Homo sapiens: one gene and its partners. Each later gene encodes a partner of the first gene's protein in a complex. Each region holds a gene or a part of one and is shown in the gene's direction. Other genes may lie near its edges.

Region 1 (7,024 bases):
CTTGTACGTGGAGTGTGGATAAGGTGCTATTGAAGAAATGTAAATTAATTAAACTGCTGACTTGTACATTTTTCTGATTCCAAATTGAGATTTTTTTTTTTTGAAAATGCTATACAGCAGTAGCAACCTGGAATATTAAAAATATGTTGCCCAAAGTACATTGTATATCATAGTTATTTCTGAAGGAGATGTAATCACTTGTTCAAAATCATGTTTTTTTATAAGAACGCTTTATGGTTTAATAATAGCATGCATTTTTTTCTTTTGGCCTGCAGGGTTTTTTTTTTTTTTGTTTTGTTTTTTTTTGCAGAGAAAAGTATTTATAAAGAATTTACCTAGATACTCTCATTAGTTAGATTGAAATAAGAGATTAAGTTCTGTACCGTGGTAATACCCACCCAGTTTCCATTACCTTGAGGTGTTCATTATGGCTTACCAAAAGTTGATTGTGCAATCAATCAGACACTTTAAGATTTCTGCTAGTCTTTTACTTATTTTCTGATTTTTTACTGCACGGAATCAAATTTCTTAAATTAATTTTTCAGCATCCATTCCCTTTTCCTAACGTGTGAAAAATGCCATTGTGTATATATGATATGGGTCATTGTATAAGTTTCTTATTCTAACTGCTGTGAGATTTGTAGCTGCTGCATTAAGTGCATGCCTGCCTGTGCCTTTCTGACTCAAAACTATTTTCTTATGCTGTCCATCACATTTCTGGGTGACTTTTTATATATTCACTCAGTTAATCATTCAGTTAAAAGTGTGTTAAATCTGCCTTTTTGAAAAGTGTAACAGTGCACCCTATGGTATGTGAACTCATTCTTGTGAGAAGACATAATTTCTGGATGTTAAGTAGACATTTATTTTTCTCTATTGAGTTAATATGGAGAAAGTGATTTTGTGCCCTTTAACTAGATTTAAATATGTGCTCTTTGATATGAGGGAGTGATCTCTAGTTCTTAGATATGTATGCTCCACTTTCATGTTTTATTTGCTTAGAATCTTCCTGACTATGGATAATTGGGTGATAATCTCAAATTCTTGCTGAATTGAGACACTAGTACACCCATTAGTACATAATTCCTATTGAAGACCATTAGTTCTATATTTGAAGCTTTTAAGGTAATCTATTGTTGACCTACTTTCTTTTTGTCTTAAGGGATTTTTTTGCAGAATGGGAAGGTAGTTGTAAATGTAGAAAGTCTGAATTTTTTTTTTTTTTGCGCTAGAACAAAATAGGGTGGACTATAAAATGGAAATTAGGAAAAGGGAATGATTTCTCTAATTTTCAAAGTGCCAAAATACACAAGGTATTTTTTTGTACCAGTTCATTGTGATTTTATAATTTATGTTTAAAGCATTTTTTTCCATGATGGTTCATTTTCTTTCTTTTTATTTTTTATTTTTTTGAGACGGAGTTTCGCCTTGTTGCTCAGGCTGGAGTGCAAAGGTGCCATCTCAGTTCACTGCAACCTCTGCCTCCCAGGTTCTAGCGATTCTCCTCCCTCAGCCTCCGGAATACCTGGGATTACAGGCATGTGCCACCACGCCCGGCTAATTTTGTATTTTTAGTAGAGACGGGGTTTCTCCATATTGGTCAGGCTGGTCTCAAACTCCCGACCTCAGGTGATCCACCTGCCTCAGCCTCCCAAAGTGCTGGGATTACAGGCATGAGCCACTACGCCTGGCTATCATTTTCTGTAATGAAAATATTTACAATTTGTTAATGTATGTTTTCGGTTTAGCATTTTGTTGTTAGTAGCACATGGTGTTACAGTATTTATATATTTTTAATAGCAATAATTGCCACCCGGTAATAGTTGCCATATTAACCTCCAATTGCTAGTAAATATTTTTAAGTACATAATAGACAGCAATTTAAGGCATAGTGTAGCAGTTTACTGGACTGTTTTAAAGAGCCATTTGTATGTGTGATGAGTTCATAATTTTAAAGAGACAATAATGTACCTTAGGCCTGTATGCTACAAATATTTTGCTGTGGATGTTGCTTGAAGTACTCACTGGGAAGAAGTTAGGTAGGGCCTATTCTTTGTGAGAAGAATGGGCAAGGGGGTGTGTTTAGGATAGTATGTATTTATTGAATTTATGCCAGGTGCTTATATAGCTTATCATTTTTTTTTTTTGTTTTGGTTTTTTTTTGAGACCAGAGTCCCACTGTGTCACCCAGGCTGGTGAAGTCTTGGCTCACTGCAACATTCAGCTCCCGGGTTCAAGGGATTCTCTTGCCTCAGCCTCCCAGGAGCTGGGATTACAGGCGCCTGCCACCATGCCTGTCTAATTTATTTGTGTTTTTAATAGAAATGGGGTTTCGCCATGTTGGTCAGGCTGCTCTGGAACTCCTGACCTTGTGATCCGCCTGCCTCGGCCTCCCAAAGTGCTGGGATTACAGGCATGAGCCACTGCGCCCGGCCAGCCTGGTTTTTAATTGTATTCCTTACCACTTTCAGAGATCTCTCTCACCAGTTTGTACTAGTGCTATAAATTGTGATAACTAAGTTAATTTTGTTCTATAATTATTTTTGCCTAATAATTTAAAATTGAGATGAAACTCATCTCAATGAAAATATGTAAATATTACTATTTACATATTTATAGAGAAACAGACAACAGAAAAATTGTTTATTTTTTATGAACAGTTAATTCAGCTGTCTCTCAACTTTGAATCAAAGATAGAGTAGATTTTTTTTGAAACATTCGACTTATTTTTGATTGAAGAAAATAACAATAATAACAATGTTCCCCTTCTTTAAGCTAGTAGTAGGAGTACTGATTTGTGTGTGTGTGTGTTTTTTTTGAAAGTGAATGATACATTTATTTCACAGGAGCTAACCAGTTAGCCAGATTAGACAGATTTTATGAGAATTAGTAGTATGGTTGACTATTAGGTATTACTGTTATTGAACTGTGCATTGCAACCGTAGAAATGAAGAAAAAAATACATGCAACATTGTTATTAGTGTCATTTATTTCAGATGTATTTTGTGCAGATCTGATTTACAAACTGTTGTGTGATGTTGGCCACCAGAATTTCTGTTTTGTCATAACGTTTCTTTTTTTTTTTTTTTTGAGACGGAGTCTGGCTCTGTGGCCCAGGCTGGAGTGCAGTGGCGCGATCGCGGCTCACTGCAAGCTCCGCCTCCCGGGTTCGTGCCATTCTCCTGCCTCAGCCTCCCGGGTTCACGCCATTCTCCTGCCTCAGCCTCCCGAGTAGCTGGGACTACAGGCGCCTGCCACCATGTCTGGCTAATTTTTTTTTTGTATGTTTAGTACAGATGGGGTTTCACCATGTTAGCCAGGATGGTCTCGATCTCCTGACCTCGTGATCCTCCCGCCTCGGCCTCCCAAAGTGCTGGGATTACAGGCGTGCCTGTCATAATAACATTTCTATTTTAAGAAATTATATTTAATGTATTTCAAAGTGAGGTAGTTGGGTAGCCTAAAAGTCTGTATAGTATTCTAGCGCACACACTCACACACACACACACACGTATTTGTTTCATAAGACTTGCTTAGAGTTTCAGAATTAGCGAATCAGTATTTGTATGTGTTCTTGGAATTTAGGACATTTTCCCCCCTCTTGAGTCATTTAACTTCTTTCTGAGCTTGTTCAGATAATTTTCTTTCTTTTTTTTTTTTTTTTTTTTTTTTTTTGAGACGGAGTCTCGCTCTGTCACCAGGCTGGAGTGCAGTGGTGCGAAGTCGCCTCGCTGCAACCTCCGCCTCCTGGGTTCAAGCGATTTTCCTGCCTCAGCCTCCCGAGTAGCTGGGACTACAGGCGCGCGCCACTATGCCCAGCTAATTTTTGTATTTTTTAGTAGAGATGGGGTTTCACCATGTTGGCCAGGATGGTCTCTATCTCTTGACCTTGTGATCCGCCCGCCTCGGCCTCCCAAAGTGCTGGGATTACAGGCTCGAGCCACCGCGCCCGGCTGATAATTTTCTTTTATAGTATATATACTTTCATTGTTTATTTGAAAGATTTAAAGGTGTTAGCTTTGTTCTGTTGGGGGAATTCACTTCATTACATAGGGGAGATGATATTTCATTAATCTTAGTAAATATTAACATAAACGAATTGTAAATTCAGACTCATTTGCATGAATGAAATATGTATGCTTGCCCAATTTTTGTTTAGTATGAAGTCATGTACATCAGCGTTTTCTGTCTTTGCTTTAGTTGATAGAAAAATAGTTTAAAATTCGTGTTCCTTTACTCCCTTGTTTTATTACTGAACTTTAAGATTATCTAGCTGGGCGTGGTGGCTCAAGCCTGTAATCCCATCACTTTGCGGGGAGGCCAAGGCAGGCGGATCACGAGGTCAGGAGATTGAGACCATCCTGGCCAACATGGTGAAACCCCGTCTCTACTAAAAATAGAAAATAATTAGCTGGGTGTGGTGGTGCGCGTCTGTAGTCCCAGCTACTTGGGAGGCTGAGGCAGGGGAATCGCTTGATTCCAGGAGGCAGAGGTTTCAGTGAGCCGAGATGGTGCCACTGCACTCCAGTCTGGCGACAGAGCGAGAGTCTGTCTCAAAAAAAAAAAAAAATTATCTGTGGTATAGAATAGATTTTATCCTCACATATTAGCTGTAATAATCCTCCTTTAGGAACTCCTGTTTTTCTTGCATTTATATTAGCATGTTTTGGTTATCTTTGTTGGAGTAGAGTTGTCCTCCTTTTTTTAAGTTAATAAAGTGCTTTTTAGAATATATTTTGATTCTAGTTTGAAAAAAAAAAAGAAAACTGCCTTGTATTTTTTCATTGACTTCTTTCTAGATGACAGGAGAGTCAGTTGTGTCCAAGGCAAAATGTTATTTCATTGGCATTTCCATACTCTGGTTTACTATGTATATTTCTCAGTGTTTATTTCTCATTCTAGATGAATTGTGGTGTAGAATCTAATTAAAACTGTATTTCTACTACTTTGAAATAGCGCAGAGCCTTGGCTGACAGCTTTCTACATTTTGTACTATTTTTCAGTATAGTAAAACTCCATTACTGTTTTTCTTTTTTGTCTGTTTTGTTTTGTTTTGTTTTTGAGACAGTCTCCCTGTGTCACTAAGGCTGGAGTGCAGTGGGCTCAAGCAGTCCTCCCACCGCAGCCTCCCCAAATGTTGGGATTATTGGCATGAGCCGCTGCTCCCTGCCTCCATTACTGTTAAAGGATCCTCTTGAGTTGAGTGCATCAAAATTTCATTAGTGTCTTTTTTTTTTTTTTTTTTTTTTGCATAGTTTAAATTTGTGGCTTTAACTTTAAAAGTAGATTGGGGGGGCGGGGAGGAGGGAGAGCATCAGGAAGAATAGTTAATGGATGCTGGGCTTAATACCTAGATGATAGGCCGGGTGCGGTGCTCAGGCCTGTAATCCCAGCTCTTTGGGAGGCCGAGGCTGGCTGATCATGAGGTCAGGAGATTGAGACCATCCTGGCCAACTTGGTGAAACCCCGTCTCTACTGAAAATACAAAAAGTAGCTGGGCGTGGTGGTGTGTGCCTGTAATCCCAGCCACTTGGGAGGCTGAGACAGGAGAATCGCTTGAACTAGGGAGTTGGAGGTTGCGGTGAGCCGAGATTGTGCCACTGCACTCCAGCCTGATGACAGAACGAGACTGTCTCAAACAAAACAAAACAAAAACAACCAAAAAACCTAGGTGATGGGTTAATCTGTGCAGCGAGTCACCATGGCACATGTTTACCTATGTAACAAAACCTGCACATGTACCCCAGAACTTAAAATAAAAGTTGATGGGGAAAAAAAATTGATAGGAGAAGATAAAGCAGGAAAATATTTAAGTCTTCATTAGATCTTTTTACTTAATAATTCTTAATTTGTATTAAGTCACTGAGTTGAATGTATTTAAGACATTTGATATTAAAATTAAATTGGAGTGACAGACTTGTTTCAAATAAAATATGTAATTGTAAACAAGTTTTATGGTGGGGAGTAGAAATTTCAAAAATTGGTAATCTAAAAGGATATTAAACTGAATAAGAATTATTGTGATCTTTTCTTCTCCCTTAAAAAACATTTGACAAATTTATGAAGAAGTGTTTTTTTTTTTTTGCTGGGAGGAGGGGAGATAGGGTCTCACTATGTTGCTCAGGCGGTTTCAAACTCCTGGCCTCAAATGATCCTCCTGCCTTGGCCTCCCAAAGTACTGGGATTACAGGTGTGAGTATGAGGAAGTATTTTTGAGTATAATACAGGAGGCTTCCTCATTTCAATATTATTAAGAAGGATGATTAAATTTATCTGAACTTAATATGAGCACTAATAAGGTATTCAGAAGAGTATAATTGGTTTGACAAAAAACATTTTATGTTGACAATTCTGACTATTGAATTTTCATGCCCTAAAGAGAAATAAGGAAAAACATACATATATCTAACTGGAACATTTGGAACTAGCTCCTAGTATTTGTGCCTGCATGTAAGCCTGGCACAATGCTACTTAAGAAGTTCAAATGTTACCTCCTCTGACCACCACAGGCAGAACTAGTTACCCCCTACCTCCCTCTGTGTACCTCTGATCATCAGATGAGCTTCTGCAGGAGAGTGACCCTGTTGAAATCATCTTTGCTAGGTGCTCATTAACTATCTGTTAAGTGATGGAATTCCTGGACGATTATTCTCCATTCCTCAAGGGAGCTCTTATTGACCATTTGGGTCTTGATCACAAGTATGCTGTTTTTATTTCAGCTTATTTTGATGATTAACTCTGTGTTCTGAATATATTTTATCTAGACTGTATGTACTGTGGCTTGGTAATATTTTAGATGAATTCTAGAATTTCCTTATTAAAGACAATTCCAACTGATCATGAGACATGTTCTTACTCCTCAAAGGAATAAGAATTCATTTAGTGTTTAGATTTTCTGTAGCATAGTAGGCAACCTATAGATTTTTGAGCCTTCTGGGGATTTTGTTTGGGGGCTTGATCCAGAATTCCTTTACTTTCATTCTTTAAGCTGTATAGCAGTGCTTTTGTTCAACATTCAAAAGAT
Region 2 (7,024 bases), on another chromosome or scaffold:
GGACCTGCACTCGATCCCCTCAGAGCACCACGAGGCCATCACCTGCCTGGAGTGGGACCAGTCAGGTGAGGCGCTGGTCCCACGTGGCCAGGGGTGGCGACCCGGATCCCGGAGCAGGGGGGCCCTGTGTTTCTCCGGTCAGTCTGGAGTCCGGCGCTGGGTCTAGAGCCCCTGGTCTGCAGCTTTGCACCTGCTGCTCTTTCCATAGTGGCCCGAATCATTCTTGTTCAGGGTGTCTCAGGGCATCTCTGGAGTGCGCCTTGTGCCACCTGCTGTGCCCTACCTGGGCCGAGACCTCTCCACTGGGCTGGCTTCCCCCAGGCGCTGTGCCGTCCTGCAACGCAGTGCTCTGCCCATCCCTGGAAGGTTCGCAATGATGGCTTCTTGCCCTCAGGCTCCCGGCTCCTGTCAGCAGATGCCGACGGGCAGATCAAGTGCTGGAGCATGGCGGACCACCTGGCTAATAGCTGGGAGAGCTCAGTGGGCAGCCTAGTGGAGGGGGACCCCATTGTGGCCCTGTCCTGGCTGCACAATGGTGTGAAACTGGCCCTGCACGTGGAGAAGGTGAGTGTCCTGCCCGAGTGAGCGGATGAGGCAGATGAGATGTCACCCTACCCAGCCACCCGCCAGCCCCTCTCCTCTCCATCACCAGCATCCCCTGGTTTTTTGGACCTTGCACTTGGCTCCCACCTGCAGTCCGGCTGTCATTAGCACCTGTGTGTTCAGTGGCCTCTCATTTAACTGAGGGTGGCTGTTCACTTGGCCCCCACCTGCAGTCTGGCTGTCATTGGCACCTGCGTGTTCAGTGGCCCCTCATTTAACTGAGGGTGGCCGTTCTTAGTGAGTTATCTCTTTCACTGGAGGCTACTGTCCTTAGGTAGCTGCATGTATAACTGGTGGCTGCTGTCTTCTGAATGCAGCCCACCCTCTGATTTAGTAACATCCCAGAGCCCCTCTCTATGCTCCCTGTGATTCGGCCCCACAGGTAAGAGTAGGCGTGGCCAGGGTTGGGGGGGACAGTTAAGATAGGCGTGGCCAGGGTTGGGGGGGACAGTTAAGAGTAGGCGTGGCCAGGGTTGGGGACAGTTAAGAAGTAGGCGTGGCCAGGGTTGGGGACAGTTAAGAGTAGGCGTGGCCAGGGTTGGGGGGGACAGTTAAGAGTAGGCGTGGCCAGGGTTGGGGGGGCACCTGGGTTCAGGCTCTGACTCCTCACCTCTGTGTGTCAGTTTCCTCACTGACGGCAGGGTCTCGGGGATGTTCGTGGCAAAGGCCTCACAGCCACCCCAGCTTCGTGCCTCTGTGCGTCTGCTTGTGCTGGGGCTCTCGCAGGAACTAGGAGGCCTTCCTGGAGGGATGCAGTGGACAAGATCTTTTCTCTCGTCCCTTCGTGAGTCCCTCCCCAGGGACTGCCATTGTCGGCGCATTGCCGCAGTACACGCAGCACCGGCTTCGTGCCACGGGGGCCCTCCGGGGTGCACTCCCCACCCTGCGGTCCCCGTTTGTCTGTATTTCCTGTTTTTGGTAACAGTTTTGTCGGGATGGAGTTCACAGACCTTAGAACTCACCCATTGAGAGTGTGCAGCCCACACGGTCCAGAGGTTTCGTATACACTCGCCATGTTGTGCGGCCACCACCATAGCTAACCTCAGACCTTTATCTTTTTTTTTTTTTTTTTTTGGAGACAGAGTCTCGCTCTATCCCCCAGGCTGGAGTGCAGTGATGCGATCTTGGCTCACAGCAACCTCTGCCTCCTGGGTTCAAGCGATTCTCCTGCCTCAGCTTCCTGAGTAGCTGGGATTACAGGCACCCACCACCACACCTGGCTAATTTTTGTAATTTTTTAGTAGAGACGGGGTTTCACCATGTTGGCCAGGCTGGTCTCGAACTTCTCACCTCAGGTGATCCGTCTGCCTCAGCCTCCCAAAGTGCTGGGATTAGAGGTGTGAGCCAACGAGCCCGGCCAGACCTTTATCTTTTTTGTTTGTTTGTTTGTTTTTTGAGACAGGGTCTTGCTCTGTTGCCCAGGCTGGAGTGTAGTGGCGCGATCTCGGCTCACTGCAGCCTCTCCCTCCCGGGCTCAAGCGATTCTACTGCCTCAGCCTCCTGAATAGCTGGGATTACAGGCGCCCGCCACCACGCCCGGCTGCTTTTTTGTATTTTTAGTAGGGACCGGGTTTCTCCATGTTGGTCAGGGTGGTCTCGAACTCCTAACCTCAGGTGATCTGCCTGTCTTGGCCTCCCAAAGTGCTGGGATGACAGGCGTGAGTCACTGTGCCCAGCTTCAGTCCCTTCTCATCACCCGAAAAGGAAACCCAGTCCCCATCCTGCATCACCCTGATCCATCCCCCACCCCAGCCCCCGAGACCCAGTTGTCTCTCTGGATCTGCCTGTCCTGGACATTCATAGAAACAGGATCACACACTGCGTAGCCTTCTGTGTCTGGCATCTCTTACTGAGCGTGATGTCCTCAAGGTGCATCCCCGCTGTGGCCTGAGTCAGAGCCTCGCTTTTTAAAATAACCAAATACATTTTTTTTGAGACAGAGTCTTGTTCTGTCAACCGGGCTGGAGTGCAGTGGTGCGATCTCGGCTCACTGAAACTTCCACCTCCCAGGTTCAAGTGATTCTCCTGCCTCAGCCTCCCGAGTAGCTGGAATTACAGGCACGCACCACCGCGCCCGGCTAATTTTTGTATTTTTAGTAGAGACGGGGTTTCACTATCTTGGCCAGGATGGTGTCGAACTCCTGACCTTGAGATCTGCCCGCCTCGGCCTCCCAAAGTGCTGAGATTACAGGCGTGAGCCACCGCGTCCGGCCAAATTTTTGTTTTTTAATTACATTAATAAAAGGCACATGTGCTCCTTTAACATAGTCTCAGACATGCCAGCCTGCGACCCACACAGACGTGTGGTGTGGACACCAGATGAGTCGTCGCCATGGCAACCCCTCACCACCAGGCCTGGCTTGCTTCCTGGACTTCTGGACCTGCTTCTTGCTATAAGAAGTGTTTTTTTTTAACTTGTAACTTAGAATGGAGCCGTACGATACGTATGATACACTTCTCTTCCTCGCATTTTTTCACAACGTAGAGACATTTTTCTTGTTCTTTTTTTTTTTGTTTTTGAGACAAAGTTTTGCTCTCGTTGCCCAGGCCAGAGTGTAATGGTGTGATCTCGGCTCACTGCAATCACCACCTCCTGGATTCCAGCAATTCTCCTGCCTCAGCCTCCTGAGTAGCTGGGATTATAGGCACCCGCTACCATGCCCGGCTAATTTTTTTGTATTTTTTATTAGCAACAGGCTTTTACTGTGTTGGCCAGGCTGGTCTTGAACTGCTGACCTCAGGGGATCCACCTGCCTCAGCCCCCCAAAGTGCTGGGATTATAGGCGAGAGCCACCGTGCGCAGCCAAGACCCCATCTTTTAAAAGACTCACGTTGAAAGAAGGGTGGATGTTTCCGTATGTCAATAATGACTTGACAAATTTGATTTGAAATCAAATAGTGCCCGCAGCAGCCGCTGGTGCTTACACAGCACTTCCTGAGTGCTATAGCTCAGGTCTGCACAGTGCGGCCCAGGGCCTGACGGCCCCCGCCTGGGTTTGTGAGTGTGGCTCATTGGCACCAGCTGCCTGTGTGCCGCCACGGCAGAGCCAGAGCCAAGTCGTTGCAACAGGGACCACCTGGCTCCCAGAACCGAGCATGCTGCTGTCTGTCCCTTTACAGAAAGGGGAGGTGACTCCCGTTGCGCACACGTTCACCCGTTTAATCCTCCCCACTGTCCTCTAAAGCAAAGGTGCCGTTCCTTCCACCTTACAGATGAGGAGACGGAGGGTCAGAGGGGATCACATCCCACACGGCTCAGGTGGCCGAGTCAGGATCTGAACCCAGGTGCACACACTCCTGGCTTCTGCGTGGTTCTTCTGTGCGCGTGTTTCTGGGGGTCATGGGGCAGCCCCCATGAGCCTGAGCGGCCCCTCCTCCCTCCCTCCCTTCTCCACAGTCGGGCGCCTCCAGCTTCGGGGAGAAGTTCTCCCGAGTCAAGTTCTCACCGTCGCTCACGCTGTTCGGCGGCAAGCCCATGGAGGGCTGGATCGCGGTGACGGTCAGCGGCCTGGTCACCGTGTCCCTGCTGAAGCCCAGCGGGCAGGTGCTGACGTCCACCGAGAGCCTGTGCCGGCTGCGCGGCCGCGTGGCCCTGGCCGACATCGCCTTCACCGGCGGCGGCAACATCGTGGTGGCCACGGCGGACGGCAGCAGCGCGTCGCCCGTGCAGTTCTACAAGGTGTGCGTGAGCGTGGTGAGCGAGAAGTGCCGTATCGACACGGAGATCCTGCCCTCCCTGTTCATGCGCTGCACCACCGACCTCAACCGCAAGGACAAGTTTCCCGCCATCACCCACCTCAAGTTCCTGGCCCGGGACATGTCGGAGCAGGTGAACGGGCGCAGGCCATCACGTGGGCTGGCAGGCTTGGAATGAAGCACTGCTTCTCAGGGTCCTGGGGGTGGAGACCCGCGCGGGCCTCCACGGGCTAAACCGTGGTGTGGGCAGGGCCGGTCCCTCCCGGGGGCTCCAGGGGAGAACCCATTTTCTGCCTTTCCCAGCATCTGGAGGCGCCCAATCCCTCGGTTCGGGGCGCCTTCCTCCCGCTTCGTGGCCACAGCGCAGCCTCTTCCTGTCTCTGAATCTCAACCTCCCACATTCTCTCCTGAGGACCCTGTGAGGACACTGGGGCCCCCGGACCCCCCCCAACGTGCTCTCCCGTCTCAGTGTCCCGAACCGAATCCCACCCGCAGGTCCCTTCTCTGTGAGAGGCGGCCCAGCCACCGGTCCTAGGGCTGAGGATGGGATGTTCTGGGGGCCACTGTTGAGCCGACCACACCAGGTCGCCTGGATTCCTGTTGTAATTAGGAATCAGTAACGCCCCAAACTCCTTGAAGCCCCTGACTTGGTTCCCTGTGTCCCTTTGCTGTCCCTGTGGGAGGGCACCATCCGGGGACATTTGCGTTCCTGTGAGTGGATGTTGGGCTCTGGGGACAGGCCTGGGCTGGAATCCAGGAGGGCCCGAGGGGCAGGCGTGGCTGAAGAGACAGGCCCAGCAGTGCGTGGCCCCAGGGTCCCGCAGCTCAGGCTCCGGTGGTGGCGTGGCCACCACAGCAGTGCCGGGTCAGCCCTCACCCCCACCTCCCCCGCAGGTGCTTTTGTGCGCGTCCAGCCAGACCAGCAGCATCGTGGAGTGCTGGTCCCTGCGCAAGGAGGGACTCCCCGTGAACAACATCTTCCAGCAGATCTCCCCCGTGGGTGAGTCTCCCGCCGGCTGCGGAGGCCCTGGGCCTGCCCTCGGGGGCGGTTGGTTTTTATTTTGGAGGCAGGTCTTGCTGTGTCACCCAGGGTGGTCCTGAACCCCGGCCCTAAGCGATCGTCTCGCCTCGATCTCCAGTAGTGCTAGGATCTCGGGTGTGACCGCGCGCCTGCCAGCATTCTGAGTGTGTTAGGCGTATAGACTCCTCCATCCTTCCACGCCCGCTGCGGCGGCTGCCACCATTCTGTGCGAGGCCGAGGCTGAGAGGTGTCGTTGCTCAGCCAGCGGGGACACCGTGAGGGGCTGCAGGCGTGTGGGCGGCTGTGGAGCGTGGGTCTGTGGGTGGGGCCGTCGGGCAGCAGGGGACAGGCCAGACCGGGCAGGGGCGGTGCACGGAATCCTCCGGAACCTGGTTCAGGGAGAGGAAGCCAAGGCTCAGCGGGTCAGCTGAGGCTGCTGAGAACACGCCCCCCACCCCACCCCACCTCTCCAGCAGCCTCTTCTGGGGCCCCCATTCCCATCTCTATCCGCCCGATGGGCCCCCCGCACCCACGGAGCCAAGCCCGTCATCCCCACCTCCGGCACAAAATCCTGGGGCTGGAGCGAAGCAGGGACGCCCGCCTGCTATGACCGGGGACCAGAACAGCCGCTTGGTTTTCAGAGCCTCGGAGGCTGCGGGCCTGGTTTTTAGGCTGGCCTCCGCTCTGGAGAAGGGAGATGTTTTCCCGGTAGATGAGAGCACAGGCATTTGCCGATTAGCGCTAATGGACCCTGGAGTGGCCAGACGTGGGGGCACGTGGGGCAGGTGGGGCAGGCGCTCCTCAGAAGCCACTAATGAGCACGTGTCAAGAGGCCCCGATGGCTCCCGGGGCCTGCAGGTGGTTATGTCAACTGCCCATTGTGGCCGCAGAGGCAGTAAAGGTGAAGAGGGCCACTGCCATTCCTTCCCCCAGGGCTTGTAGTGAGTCACCAGGCAGGTGAAGAGGGCTGCTGCCATTCCTTCTCCCAGGGCTCGTTCCTTCGCCCGGTCCCCAGGGCCTTGTTGGGCCTCATTCCTTCCCCTGGGCCTCGTGGTGAGTCACCAGGCAGTTTGGGCTGCGCTGGCTCCTGCAGCAGCACCTGGCGCCACCCCGTGTGGCTGCACAGACCTGCACCTTCACTGCCCGGTGCCCCCGCTGGGCACGTCTGTGTCTACCATCTGCCCACAGCCAAGCCACTGGGCAGTCCTGGGCTCCGACACTCCTCCTCGTCTCCTGCAGCCGTCCTCACCTGCTGGCCCAGCTGTTACCCGCCCGAGAGCCACGTCTCACACACATGCCACAGCCTTTCTCAGGTCTCACATCCCTGGCAGCTGGGGGTCACTGGGACAGTCCCCACCGCACCCATCTCTCCCCCATCTCTCCCCCTACCGCCCCACGTGCCCACCATGCCAGGCTTTGGTCCCCGCCATGCCCAGCTCTTCACGCACCGCCCCACGTGCCCACCGTGCCAGGCTTCGGTCCCCGCCATGCCCAGCTCTTCACCCACCACCCCACGTGCCCACCGTGCCAGGCTTCGGTCCCCGCCATGCCCAGCTCTTCACCCACCGCCCCACGTGCCCACCATGCCAGGCTTCGGTCCCCGCCATGCCCAGCTCTTCACGCACCGCCCCACGTGCCCACCATGCCAGGCTTCGGTTCCTACCATGCCCAGCTCTTCACCCACTGCCCCACATCCCCACTTAG
Region 3 (7,872 bases), on another chromosome or scaffold:
GGAAGACAGATGTCATGTCCACCCTTCGTAAGTCTTTTCTAATTAAACATTCCCCAATTCCTAAACCATTCTCCTAACAGTAAATCTGATTCATTGCATACCTACAATATACAGTATATACCAGGCACTGCCAAAGGCCTAAGAAGTTAAATAAACTGCCTAGACCCACACAAGCAGTTGCCAGAATTATAGATCTGTCTGACTGTAAAGCCACACCTTCAAATCTAGATCCTATAGCAGTACTGTCTAACAGAAATATGTGAGTCACATATATACTTTTAAATATTCTAGGCCAGGCATGGGGGCTCACACCAGCAATCTGGGAGGCCCAGGTAGTAGGATCACTTGAGGACAGGAGTTTGAGACCAGCCTGGCCAACATGGTGAAACCTGGTCTACTTAAAGAAAAAAAAAAAAATCAGGCGGGCATGGTGGCATGCATCTGTAGTTCCAGCTACTCAGGAGGCTAAGACATGAGAATTGCTTGAGTCTGGGAAACAGAGGTTGCAGTGAGCCCAGATTGTGCCACTGCACTCCAGCCTGGAAGACAGAGCAAGACTTCTGTCTCCAAATAAATAAAAATATAAATAAATAAATATTCTAGTAGCACCCTGTAAAAATAAGCTGGGCTCAGTGGCTTACACCTGTAATCCCAGCACTTTGGGAGGCTGAGGCAGGTGGATCACCTGAGGTCAGGAGTTCAAGACCAGCCTGGCCAACATGGTAAAACTCTGTCTCTACTAAAAAATAGAAAAATTAGCCAGATGTGGTGGCGGGCGCCTGTAGTCCTAGCGACTGGGGAGGCTGAGGAAGGAGAATTGCTTAAACCTGGGAGGTAGAAGTTGCAGTGAGCCAAGATCACGCTACTGCACTCCAGCCTGGACGACAGAGCAGGACTCCGTCTCAAAACAAAACAAAACAAAACAAATAAATAAAAATAAATAAACAAGTTAAATTAAATGTAATAAAATATTTTTATTTAACCCCAGTATCCAAAATATTATCATTTCAGCAAGTACTCTATATAAAAAAATATTGACTTGGTGTTGTGGCTCACACCTATGATCCCAGCACTTTAGGAGGCCTAGGCAGCAGAATTTCTTGAGCCCAGGAGTTGGAGACCAGCCTGGTCAATATAGTGAGACCCTGTCTCTACAAAAAAAGGAAAGAAAAAAAGGCTGGGGCTGGGCACGGTGGCTCACGCCTGTAATCTCAGGACTTTGGGAGGCCGAGGCAGGCAGATCACCTGAGGTCAGGGGTTCAAGACCAGCTTGGCCAACATGGTGAATCCCATCTCTACTAAAACTACAAAAATTAGCCAGGCGTGGTGGCTCACGCCTGTAATCCCAGCTACTCAGGAGGCTGAGGCACAAGAATCACTTGAAACTAGGAGGCGAAGGTTGCAGTGAGCCAAGATGGCGCCACTGCATTCCAGCCTGGGTGACAGAGTGAGACTGTTTAAAATATATATATATATATATATTTATGTGTAGATATACATTTTTATATATGTATATATATGTGTATATATGTGTATATATGTGTGTGTATATATATATATGTGTGTGTGTATATGTGTATATATATATGATTCCTCACTTCAAGATGTTTACAATCTATCCAGGGAGATAAGCCATGCACAAAATACATTCACAGATCCAGTGACTCCCCCGAAAAATGAAAAAAATAATTTTGAAAAAATGAATTTAAAAAAGAGTGAAAACAATAAAATAGAATGCACCTGTAATCCAGCTACTTGGGAGGCTGAGGCAGGAGAATAGCTTGAACCCAGGAGGCGGAGGTTGCAGTGAGCCAAGATCGCGCCACTGTACTCCAGCCTGGGCAACAGAGCAAGACTCTGCCTCAAAAAAAAAAAAAAAAAAAGGCCGGGCGCGGTGGCTCATGCCTGTAATCCCAGCACTTTCGGAGGCCGAGGCGGGTGGATCACGAGGTCAGGAGATCGAGACCATCCTGGCTAACACGGTGAAACCCCATCTCTACTTAAAATACAAAAAATTAGCTGGGCGTAGTGGCAGGCGCCTGTAGTCCCAGCTACTCAGGAGGCTAAGGCAGGAGAATGGCGTGAACCCGGAAAGTGGAGTGAGCCGAGATTGCGCCACTGCACTCTAGCCCGGGCGACACAGCGAGACTCCATCTCAAAAAAAAAAAAAAAAAAAGCTAATAACTACTGCTTATTAAATGCCTACACGCCAGGCATGATGGCTCATGCCTGTAATCCCAGCACTTTACGAGGTCAAGATGGGAGGATGGCTTGAGGCCAGGAGTTTGAGACCAGCCTGGGTCTCACATAGTGAGACTCCGTCTCTAAAAAAATTAATAAAATTAAATAAAAATAAAAGAAAATAAAAATATTAAGTGCTTACAATAAGCCAAGCACTATGTTAAATGCTTTATAACCATCTCATTTGATTTTGGCAAACTCCTTTGAAAGTACTATTATTATCTCTATTTTACAAAAAAAGGAAGCTGAGGCTCAGGGAGGGGAAGTGAATGCCCATGGTTGCACAGCTGGGTAGTGGCAAAGTACAGGGGTGGGCCCCATCCTAAGCTCTAGGCATCATATCCTTATCAGAGAAACCCATCCCTGTAATCTCCAGGCCTCCTTCAGGTATTATCATATTGTTTACCCATTTTCTGTCTATCTCCCCTACCTTTTTAAAAAAATTTACCCTTCTTTAAAATACCAGCTAAAATCTGGGTAAACCCTATGGTGCCTCAAATGACCTGTAATTCACTGGACTTTCTATGCTGCAATTAGTGTCTGTATAGGAAAAGAGAGGCCAAAGAAGTTCACAGCCTCCTCTAATCATTACAGCACTTGAGAGCTGGTCACTCTGCCCAATCTTGTGAATCACCAGGTTGATCAGGAGGCACATCCTAAACCCTAGGGCATACGCAATCCTTGTCAATCTTCTTTTCCTACTTAGTACACTCTTTCACGATGATCTCATTCAATGTCATGGCTTTTAGCTACCATCTATGAGGCTATGGTTTTGAAATCTCTATCTGTAGCCCATTTCTCTCCCCTGAACTTTGCCATTTGGGTGTCCCACAGACACCTGATGCTCAGTGGGTCTACATATGAACTCATCTTTCCTGTCTCACCCACACTGCTCTGTGTTTCCTAGCTTAGAGAAAAAAAGTGCTACGATAGCCACCCAAGACATCTGTGACTCCTTCATCTCTGTCTTTACCTCTGGTTAGTCATTAAAGAATTATTTTCCATATATATATAGAGGACAGAGTCTTGCTCTGTAGCCCAGGCTGGAGAGCAGTGGTGCAATTTCAGCTCACTACAACCTCTGCCTCCTGGGTTCAAGCAATTTTGGTCTCTTGACCACCTGAGCCACCTGAGTAGCTGGGACTACAGGCGTGTGCCACCACACCCGGCTAATTTCCTCTTTTTACTTTTTTTTTTGAGCCGGAGTCTTGCTCTGTCGCCCAGGCTAAAGTGCAGTGGTGCGATCTCGGCTCACTGCCAGCTCTGTCTCCCAGGTTCACACCATTCTCCTGACTCAGCCTCCCAAGTAGCTGGGACTACAGGCGCCCGCCACTACGCCCAGCTAATTTTCTGTATTTTTAGTAGAGACAGGGTTTCACCGTTAGCCAGGATGGTCTCGATCTCCTGACCTCGTGATCCACCCCCCTCGGCCTCCCAAAGTGCTGGGATTACAGGCGTGAGCCACCGCGCCTGTCCTCTTTTTACATTTTTAAAATCTTTTTCTGACATTTGTTTCTCAGCTGGAGTTGTACCAAAGCGCCTAACTGGTCGTTTTTCTTTAATTTTTTTCCAGACAGGATCTCCCTCTGTTGCACAGGCTGGAGTGCAGTGGCGCTATCTCAGCTCACTGCAACCTCTGCCTCCTGGACTCAAGCAATCCTCCCACCTCAGCCTCCCAAGTAGCTGGGACTGCAGGTGCGAGCCACTACGTTCAGCTAATTTTTTGTATTTTTTGTAGACACAGGGTTTCACCATGTTGTTCAGGCTGGTCTTGAATTCCTGAACTCAAGCCATCTGCCCGCCTTGGCCTCCCAAAGTGCTGGGATTACAGGCCTGAGCCACCGTGTCCGGCCTGGTCTTTTTTCTCTAGGCTCTCTCCTTTCCCAAACTTTTCTCCATGTTGTAGCCAGGGTTCTTTTAAAGCTCACATGTATTCTTTGGTATGGCACTGCAGAGTACTCCTGGATCTGGACCTACTCCTTTTCCAGACTCTTTTTTTTTTTTGAGACAGAGTCTCTCTCTGTAGCCCAGGCTACAATGCAGTGGCGCGATCTCGGTTCGCTGCAACTTCCGCCTCCCGCGTTCAAGCGATTCTCCCACCTCAGCCTCCCTAGTAGCTGGGATTACAGGCGCGCGTCACCATGCCCGGCTAATTTTTGTATTTTTAATGGAGACGGAGTTTTACCATCTTGGCCAGGCTGGTCTCGAACTCCTGACCTCAAGTGATCCGCCTGCCTCGGCCTCCCAAAGTGCTGGGGTTACAGGCGTGAGCCACCGCGCCCAACCCCTCAGTTCTTTTTTCTTTTGAAACCCACTATAATCTCTGTAAGTCCTATCAGTTCCAAGAGACTTTCTACACAAATACATCTCCAGGTTGTCAAACCTAAAAAGATTTTCCTAGAGCATGGCCTATGACGTCAAGGATCCAGGTAGCGCCCGGAGGAAAGCGCCAAAGGAGGCCGCCATCTTTCATACAGCAGCCCGGAATTTTGCGCATGCGCCTCTGATTGTCTGTCCGCAATGAAGCTCTTCGGCCTTCTCGGCACCCATACGTTTGGGAACGGCAGTTTCGAGGTTTGTGAGACGTCGGCTTCCGACCGGAAGTGAGAAGAGGAGGAAGTTGGCTGGTTGCACCGATCTGGGGGCTTCCCGGGCTCGGGTAACCGGAGTGCTGGTATCTAATCGTCGCTCAAAAGCTCCTAGGTGCGCGGGTGGATATAATTCCCGGCTTCTCGAGAAGACACTACAGCCTCAAGGAGGTGTGCTTCTAGTGTTTAATTGGATACGTGTTATGGATGCCGGCTTAGAAGGACCTATATACCATCATCTTAAAATAACTTCCCCTTGGCTCTCTCTCTCTTTTTTTTTTTTTTTTTTTTTTTGAGACGGAGTTTCGCTCTTGTTGCCCAGGCTGGAGTGCAATGGCGCGATCTCGGCTCACCGCAACCTCGCCTTCCGGGTTCAAGCGATTCTCCTGCCTCAGCCTCCTGAGGAGCTGGGATTACAGGCGCTCGCCACCAGGCCTGGCTAATTTTTTGTATTTTTAGTAGAGTCGGGGTTTCTTCATGTTGGTCAGGCTGGTCTCGAACTCCCAACCTCCAGTTGATCCGCCGGCCTCGGCCTCCCAAAGTACTGAGATTACAGGCGTGAGCCACCGCGCCCGGCCTTGGCTCTCTTTAAAAGGCATTTTTAGGCTAGCCGCAGTGTGGTCTCCCGCCTGTAGTAGTCCCAGCTACTCGGCTTGAGCCCAGGAGTTCGAGGTTATAGTGAGCTAGGAACTCCCCACTGCACTGCAGCCTGGGCTACAGAGCGAGATCCTGTCACCAAAAAAGAAAAGCGTACGGGGGAAGGCATTTTCAGAGAGATAGAACGCCTAGATGTTAGTTTGGTCCAAACTCTGCTACCAACTTGCTGTGTGTATCCTTCTGTCCCTCTCCAAGTCTCAATATCCTCATCTATAAAACGAAGGTCCCTTAAGTCACTTTTTCAGTTCTTCTGAATTTTGTTGCCTCTTTATTATCTCGTTTGAGCCACATAGCCTTGGGAGTTAAAAATCACTGGCCTTTGGCCGGGCACGGTGGCTCACACCTGTAATGCCAGCACTTTGGGAGGCCGGATCACCTGAGTATCACCTGAGGCCAGGAGTTCGAGGCCAACCTGGCCAACATGACGAAACCCCGTCTCTACTAAAAATACAAAAAAAATTAGCTGGGCTTGGTTGCGGGCGCCTGTAATCCCAGCTACTCGGGAGGCTGAGACAGGAGAATCGCTTGAACCTGGGAGGCAGAGGCTGCAGTGAACAGAGATTGCGCCATTGCACTCCAGCCTGGGCGACAAGAGTGAAACTCCGTCTCAAAAAAAAAAAAAAAAAAAAATCACTGGCCTCATTTTATAAGGAAGACATTGAGTCCCAGGGTGAGGGGTTATAGATAGGACTTTCTCAAGATTGCACAGGTAATGTGGAGGTTTCAGAACTTGAGACTAGAAGGTAATGCTGTAACTCCATGACCAGATCTCCTTTCTATATTTCTGTGTCATCAGTTCCTGGAACTGGCCATATAAGGAAATACTCAAACGTTTTTGAATGAATGAATCTTTGATTTGAAGGCCAGTGCCACAACAGATCTGGTCTCTCTCCACCACTTTGATGTATAAACAAGTGAACTCTTTTCCAGGTATATCCCGTGCCTTACCTGACTGGGGGCTCTGAGTCCAGTTGTGTTGTCTTCAACTTAGACACCATGGAGGCACCTCCAGTCACCATGATGCCTGTCACTGGGGGCACCATTAACATGATGGAGTACCTGTTGCAGGGTAAGTGAACTAGGGAACTTGGATTACCTGTTTTCCTCTTCTCTGTTCAGCTTCCCTTAAGATGAGAGACTTAACACAAAAGCAGCCTGCACAGTTTCTGGCACCCAGCTATGTTTTTAACTGTTACTTTAAATTATAGTTTTATATGCACTAAACATACTAAATTTGCCATCTTGGCTGGGCATGGTGGCTCACGCGTATAATCCCAGCACTTTGGGAGGCCGAGGTGGGCGGATCACGAGGTCAGGAGATGGAGACCATCCTGGCTAACACAGTGAAACCCTGTCTCTACTAAAAATACAAAAGAAATTAGCCCGGCGTGGTGGCGGGCACCTGTAGTCCCAGCTACTCAGGAGGCTGAGGCAGGAGAATGGTGTGAACCTGGGAGGCAGAGGTTGCAGTGAGCCGAGATCGCGCCACTGCACTCCAGCCTGGGCGACAGAGTGAGACTCTGTCTCAAAAAAAAAAAAAAATTGCCATCTTAACATATTTAAGTGTACAGTTCTGTATTGTTAAGTATATTAACATTGTTAAACAACAGATCTTTAGAACTTTGGTTTATTGTGAGTAGCTTGAAAAAATACTTAGTACAACTTTTTATTTCTTTGAGACAGAGTCTCAATCTGTCACCCAGGCTGGAACGCAGTGGCACAATAACAGCTCACTGCAACCTCTATCTACTTCCCGGGTTCGAGGGATTCTTGTGTCTCAGCCCCCCTAAATAGCTGGGATTGCAGGCGTGCATCACCACGCCCAGCTAATTTTTGTATTTTTAGTAGAGAGTTGTGGTTTCATCACGTTGGCCAAACTGATCTTGAACTCTTGCCCTCAAGTGATATACTTGCCTTGGCCTCCCAAAGTGCTAGGATTACAGGTATGAGCTGCCGCGCCTGGCCTAAAATACTTAAGTTTTTCATCCTATAAAACTGCAACTCTATACCCATTAAACACTAATTACCACTCCCCTCTATGCCAAACCCTTAGCAACTATCTTTCTAGGTCCTGTTTCTCTGATTTTTTTTTTTTAAGATGGATTCTCACTCCGTTGCCCAGGCTGGAGCACAGTGGTGCAATCTTGGCTTACTGCAGCCTCTGCCTCCCAGATTCAAGCGATTCTTCTGTCTCAGCCTCCTGAGTAGCGGGATTACAGGTGTGCACCACCATGGCCAGCTAATTTTTGTATTTTTAATAGAGACAGGGTTTTTCCATGTTGGCCGGGCTGGTCTTGAACTCCTGACCTCAGGTGATCCACCTGCCTCAGCCTCCCAGAGAGCTGGGATTACAGGCGTGAGCCACCGCGCCCAGCCAGATTTTGTA
Region 4 (7,024 bases), on another chromosome or scaffold:
AACATAAAGCATCAGCAGTGGTGAAACATTGAGATAATTAGGGTGCCTATTTAAGATTTTACCAATATGCTAGTCAATACAGTTGATACAAAGGAGATATAGAAAGAATGACAAAACAGGGACAAAATTATCAATACGTGGAAATAAAATTAATGAGAAAACTCAGTTAATTGAGAAGTTATTAGAAATAATAAAGGTTTAGGAAGGTGACCAGTTATAAAATGCAAAAATAAAAGCTTTTTAAAAATGGATAGAGAAGTATAATTTACATTAGCAACAGAAAATATACAGAGGGAAAAATATAAAGAAATATACAGAACCTGTAGGAAGAAAACTTTAAAAGTCCATAGTGGCACATACAGATTTTAATAGAGTTTGAATTCTTGGTAAGATGTCATTTCTCCCCATATTGATCTTTAAATGTAATGTAATCACAAAATTTGAATGGATATTCTTTTTTAGGACTCGACATAATGCTTCTAAAGTTTAGGTCTTAGAATAATTGTGATAGAATAGTCAGAAATTTTCAGAAGAATAGAAGGGAGTATTTTTCATATCACCTATTAATTACTTAATTTTCTATGTTTTAAAGTAGCACAGCATATGAAGAAGAAAAAAATAGGAAATTATAAAGAAGATCCAAGTATAATGATAGAATTATAAATCAGGAAATACCTTAGCACATTTGGATAAGCATTTGACAACATATTTAGCTGGATCCCTGCTTTATACTCTGTACCAAAATAAATTCCAGATGGATCATAAATTGAAGGAAAAAAGCTCTTAAGGGTATTAGAAAATATGGGTGAATTGTTTTTTATCGTTTTGAATCAGGAAAGGCCTTGCTATGCCTGACAAACATGAAAGTAAAAGGTAGATTTAAGTAAGTGATTCAGATTTCTGTATTACAAATAAATACTGAGAGATATTTAAACTTGGGAGAAATTTTGCACTTATTTGACAAACAAATGATTTATTATTTATACTATACAAATTTTAGATCAGAAGAATCTCTTAATCATTAAAAAAATCGGTAATCCCATTAGAAAAATGGTCATATTAGAATTAACATTGTACAAAAGAAGAACTGTATTTGACCAATAAAGACATGGAAAGATGTTTAACCTCAAAAGTAAACTACAGGGAAAAGAAACAGTGACATACTACTTTGCCTTTAAGTTACAAAGTATTTAAAAGTGGCAGTAACCCATAGGAATTTTTTTTTTTTTTTTTTTTTTGACAGAGTCTCACTCTGTACCCCAGGCTGGAGTGCAGTGGTATGATCTCAACTCAGTGCAACTTCCACCTCCCGGGTTCAAGCAGTTCTCCTGTCTCCGCCTCCCAGGTAGCTGGGACTACAGGCGCACGCCACCACGTCCAGCTAATTTTTGTAATTTTAGTAGAGATGGAGTTTCACCATATTGGTCAGGCTGGTCTCAAACTCCTGACCTCAGGTGATCCACCCACCTCGGCCTCCCAGAGTGCTAAAATTACAGGCATGAGCCACCGCGCCCGGCCAGGATTAAATATTATAAGATTCACTCATGAACTGTTAATACAAATGGAAATTGGTATAATGTTTTTGGAGGGTAAACTGACAATGTGTATCAATAAGTTACCAGCAACACTAACCCATTAATCCTACTTCTGGGAAGTTATTTCAAATATATTATTAATCAAATATGCAAGGAGAATTACAAAGATATTCATTAAGAAGAATATCATTCAGGAAAATAGTAGGAAGAGAGTTTTTTTTTATACCAGCTATTAATTACTTAATTTTCTGTGTCTAAAATAGCACAGCATGTGAACAAGAAAAAAATAGGAAATTATAAAGAAGATCCAAGTATAATGATAGAATTATAAATTAGGAAATACCTCCATGCATTTGGATAAGCATTTGACAAAATTTTAGCTGGATCCCTACTTTGTACCAAAATAAATTCCAGATGGATCATAAATTGAAGGAAAAAAGCCCTTAAGGGTATCAGAAAATATGGGTGAAAAATGACGACCTGTATTTCCATCAGTAGAGATTGGCTAAATAATGATCCATCCATAAAGCTGTATAAAAGAATGCTGAATAACAAGTTCATTGACATAAGACTTCAAATACATATTGAATGACAAACACAGGTTCAAGATAGTTTTTTCTTTGAGTCATGTCAATTTCATATCTGGTTAAAAATAGCACACTTGACTAGGCAAGAGGAGGAGGCTATCAGTGTAACACATTCTGAGGCAGTTTTTAATATAATTAGATTTGTGAAGTAAGGAAATTAAATGCCATAGTTACCCATGAACAGCTGGAAAACTATATACTTCCTCAAATCTAAGCCACCATCAATTGGTGCCAAATAATTCCACCATTATCTTATATCACTAAGAAAGAATAAACATGCTGCCAATTAAAACACGAAGGCATCACAGATTGTAAGACATATCTTGATATCAGAGCCAGAATCAATGAAATACAAGCTAGTAACAGACTAAGGAGGAAGAAGGAAAAGATTAGAGCAGAATTTTTTCAGGACGTATTTACATTTATTAGTGAGATAATTCTTATTAGTCACGTTTCAAGAAATGTGAGAAATAATTGTCTTTAAGGTTACTTTTTGCACTTTGTACTTCTCAGAATATGAACAATGTGTTCAATCTTAGAGTGTTTCCTCTGACCTTGCTTGTTGATTTTCTGTAACATGTCTTTTCTAGTTTGCAATGGATTTTGGATAAACAAGATCTGTTGAAGGAGCGCCAAAAGGATTTAAAGTTTCTCTCAGAGGAAGAATATTGGAAGTTACAAATATTTTTTACAAATGGTAAACTTTTTTAAAAATTGGTTCAAATTGTATAGTTGGTTACCTCTGAATAAAAATGTTTTTGTGTGGTAATTTGTGAACTGTTTTAGTGCATACCTAACATTTTTGCTTATACAGGTATTCTTTTTACAACATATTCATTTATCTTTCTTTTTAGTGATCCAAATAAAGTTTTTTTGTGTGAATTTTACATATCACAGGCACTCAAGACAATTTGAAAGTGTTACCTAATCTCCCTAAGACTTTATAATAATTATTAGACCCAGTTCAAGGTTGGCTAAAGCAAAGTACTTTGAGGATAAATGATTCTTTGGATTGACATCCTATAGTGGTCGTTTCTCTTAGAACTTTGCTTTGAAGGGAAGAAGATGTAGGGATAGATCTTTACTCTGACATGTAGTAGGTTTGTCACATAATTTTTTTAACTTTCGGTTCACTATTTTGTAAACTTATCTTTTTTTTGAGGATTCGTTATGGATTTTTATGTATTATTTATTTATTTTGGTGAGCTGTATAAAGCTAAGTGTGGTGGCTCACACCTGTAATCTTAGCACTTTGGGAGGCAGAGGTGGGCAGATCACTTGAGGCCAGGAATTTGAGATGAGCCTGGCCAACATGGTGAAATTCCCTCTCTACTAAAAATACAAAAATTAGCTGGGCGTGGTGAGGCACAAGAATCACTTGAACCTGGGAGGTGGAGATTACAGTGAGCCAAGATCGTGCTACTGCATTCCAGCCTGGGCGACAGAACGAGACTCTGTCTCAAAACAACAAAAAAAGTGGTAGTATTAACAAGTTTCATAGGTGTCTAATATTTTCTTTTTATATTTATTATAAAGATACTATGAAAAGCATTAAAAATATTTAGAAGATAGAGGGGAAATATTTATTCAACTTCCTTAATGGATGAATAATTTTTTCCTGTGGGGCAATTTCTGTTTTGTTGTTGTTTTGTTGTTGTTTATGCATACCTATATATTTCTTAACACATTTGCAAATCCTAGAATTAGACCACTGTGACTCACATAGAGCATGTGTAGGTTTTTTCCTTTGTTAAAAATGAACATAATTATGATTTAACCACATGGAAGTTACTGTTCAATGTTAATATTATAATGATACCAGAAGATACATTTAAAATTTCATTATTTGCCTTTTAGTTATCCAAGCATTAGGTGAACATCTTAAATTAAGACAACAAGTTATTGCCACTGCTACGGTATATTTCAAGAGATTCTATGCCAGGTAGGATTGTTTTTATTTTATTTATTTGAACTCTTATCTAATGTTGATGAACCTTAGCACAGTGTAAATGAATCATGTGTCTACCATAGAGTTATCTTGATTTTTTTCCCAGTGTGTTTTCTGTATGAATGATATTTAACTTTGTTTTATCATATTTTAGGTATTCTCTGAAAAGTATAGATCCTGTATTAATGGCTCCTACATGTGTGTTTTTGGCATCCAAAGTAGAGGTATAAAACAATTTTCTGTTCTTCATCAAAGTGTAGTCAATGTATGTTGGTTAATCTGCCCCAGTTTTCACATGGCCTATGTAAAATTAATAAATGGTAATTTATGCAAAATACTAAAATTGTACAAAATCAAAGAAATATATACATATCCTTATATATTCACTTAACAGACACATACAGCACTTACTGTGTACCAACTGACTTAATCTTTGTAACAAACTGGAATACATAGTAGTAGTATTCCCATTTTATAAATGAGGAAACTGAGACAGAGATGAAGAACTTGCTTAAGATGATATAGCTAGTAAGTGTGAGAGCCCGTGTTTGAACCATGGGAGTCTCGTTACCAATCCTGTGTTCTTAACTACTTTCCTCTGCTGCCTTTGAGACATCTATTGTTTGGCACTGAGTAGTATTCAGTAAGTACCACAGCTTGCCTACCATAACCTGAGAATGTCCCTTATGCTTCTCACCCATATGCTTATCTTCTCCTGTCTTCCCTCCCATCATCCTGATGATTGGCTGCCTACCAAGCCAGAAGGAAGGCAAGGATTAGGGGAAGCTATAGCTATATAGAGTCTAACAAGTAAAAGTTGAGGTTGTGAGCGTAGAGAAATTAGGTAAGGGAGAGAAGATAGATAGGAACTTGCGGCAGAGACTGAATTTCTGTTCAACTGTTTTACCTTTGTAGTATTTTTGAAAGAGCTCAGCTAAAGTCCAGAAAATAATAGCAGATATTGGCTGTTTTTCATAAATAATGTAGTCTTTGGTGGTGTGAAATCTTTGCATTATGTTTCTATTTTTGGATAATGTCTTAGAGTTCTATTCTTAGAGTTGTATTCTTGAATATTGAATGTGATTTTTACCTAGTAAGTTTACATTCCTTTTGGCACCCACTTTGATTTAGTTTTGTTTTAGCCATGATTTAAGGTTATCCATGACATCTTTCCCAACTGTTACCTAAATAATGACAATTGACTCTGTTAGAAATAATATTAAGACAAGCTTTCTAGAAGTTTATGTTTTCTAATTGTGAGTGGTAGTTTAAGAAGGCAGAATCAGTTAAGGTCCTTATTATGGATTGAGTTTTCTAATTCTAATAATTCTATGTAATATTTGATTTTATTTAAATATTACCATGTAATAATTTAAAGTCTCTTAAGCACAGGCAGTATGGAGGACCAAGACAAAAAATCTTTATAAACATTTAATCTTGTAGATTAATTTGAGGATTTTAATCTATCTTACTTGTTAAATATTGTTATGTGATTTACTGAGTAGAACTCTGTGATGTGATTTACTGAATGAAAGTTTTCCCTTTGAGTTTTGGATAAAGAATTATTCCTAGGCCGGGTGTAGTGGCTCACACCTGTAATCCCAGCACTTTGGGAGGCTCAGGCGGGTGGATCACCTGAGGTCAGGAGTTTGAGACCAGCCTAACCAACATGGCAAAACCCCGTCTCTACTAAAAATACAAAAATTAGCCGGATGTGGTGGCAGATGCCTGTAATCCCAGCTACTAGGGAGGCCGAAGCATGAGAATTGCTTGAACCCATGAGGTGGAGGTTGCAGTGAGCCAAGACTATGCCACTGTACTCCAGCCTGGGTGACAGAGCAAGATTGCATCTCAAAAAAAAAAAAAAAAAGAATTATTCCTGAGAAAGAGAATGTAGTCTTTCAGATTTGGTCGTAGCATTATTATTATTTTTTTTTTATCTCTGTGACCAAATCTTTCTGTATTTTCTCTAGTTTTATGGAAATTGTATGGAAAGCTCATTTAAGAACATGTCTCAGGCTTTTACTTTTTCTTTTCAGTTATTATAGTTGGAGGTTTAAATGTAAAACAAATATATTAGTACACATACATTTCCCCTACACAGGATAAGGATGTAGGCTGAAGGTATTTAAATAGATTTTTAGTTTAGCTCCTTTTGTTGGATAAGAAACCAACTCTTGATTTTTTTATTTTAAAATGAAGTGAAGGCTTTAGAAATCTTACGAGGCAATAAATGAAACAGTATATATAAGGTGGATCATAATAAATTTTAGTATTTTCACAATGGTGGTTGTTCAGTTGAAAGAGGAAATGGGAACTGACTTTGGAAGTCTTACGTAATTCCTGTCTCCCTGTTCTAAAAAGGATAGTAACTATTTATATGGTTTTTTTTTTTTTTTAGTTCTTTTGGTGATTAATTAAGGTTTATCTTATTCACAAATTCAACTGTTTTACCATAGAATGGCATGAAGTATCTGTTAATACAGGTTGAATTGAATAGGAAACATACTTAATATTCTTGCAATTAAGTATAGAATGTAAACAATCTTCTTGGAAACTAATTTAAATGGAAAAACTGACACTGTAACCTTAAGGCTTGGTTTCTAATTTGGTACCTTTTATTGTTATTAAATTATAAAATTATTTTAAAATATGTCTTAAGTTGTAGCAATTTGGGGGAGAGGTAATACAGGCAGAATATCCGTAATCTGAAAATCCTAAATGCTCCAAAATTTGAAACGTTTTGAGGGCCAACATGACATTCAAAGGAATGCTCATTGGAACATTTTGCATTTCAGATTTTTAGATTAGGGATGCTCAACCAGTGTAATGCAAAATATTCCTAAATCAGAAAAATCTCTGATCCTAAGCATGTCAGATAAGGGGTAATCAGCCTGTACATTTAGGAGTGTAAGTACTTCACACCTCAAGTAGTTAGAAGGTGAACAGATTGT

Evidence for each region.
Region 2: MED13L (region 1) and MED16 share a complex: the UniProt entries of both Homo sapiens proteins name them as parts of the mediator complex.
Region 3: MED13L (region 1) and MED18 share a complex: the UniProt entries of both Homo sapiens proteins name them as parts of the mediator complex.
Region 4: MED13L (region 1) and CCNC share a complex: the UniProt entries of both Homo sapiens proteins name them as parts of the mediator complex.

Annotation. Positions count from the first base shown.
Region 1 is NC_000012.12:116,267,692-116,274,715, reverse strand, and holds part of MED13L (mediator of RNA polymerase II transcription subunit 13-like), read left to right. Parts: intron 1-7,024. UniProt on the Homo sapiens protein: Component of the Mediator complex, a coactivator involved in the regulated transcription of nearly all RNA polymerase II-dependent genes.
Region 2 is NC_000019.10:883,178-890,201, reverse strand, and holds part of MED16 (mediator of RNA polymerase II transcription subunit 16), read left to right. Parts: coding exon 1-65; intron 66-394; coding exon 395-564; intron 565-4,000; coding exon 4,001-4,432; intron 4,433-5,193; coding exon 5,194-5,299; intron 5,300-7,024. UniProt on the Homo sapiens protein: Component of the Mediator complex, a coactivator involved in the regulated transcription of nearly all RNA polymerase II-dependent genes.
Region 3 is NC_000001.11:28,324,181-28,332,052, forward strand, and holds the start of MED18 (mediator of RNA polymerase II transcription subunit 18), read left to right. Parts: upstream 1-4,859; 5' UTR 4,860-5,000; intron 5,001-6,105; exon of another isoform or gene 6,106-6,195; intron 6,196-6,416; 5' UTR 6,417-6,482; coding exon 6,483-6,555; intron 6,556-7,872. UniProt on the Homo sapiens protein: Component of the Mediator complex, a coactivator involved in the regulated transcription of nearly all RNA polymerase II-dependent genes.
Region 4 is NC_000006.12:99,558,637-99,565,660, reverse strand, and holds part of CCNC (cyclin-C), read left to right. Parts: intron 1-2,712; coding exon 2,713-2,819; intron 2,820-3,979; coding exon 3,980-4,064; intron 4,065-4,224; coding exon 4,225-4,294; intron 4,295-7,024. UniProt on the Homo sapiens protein: Component of the Mediator complex, a coactivator involved in regulated gene transcription of nearly all RNA polymerase II-dependent genes.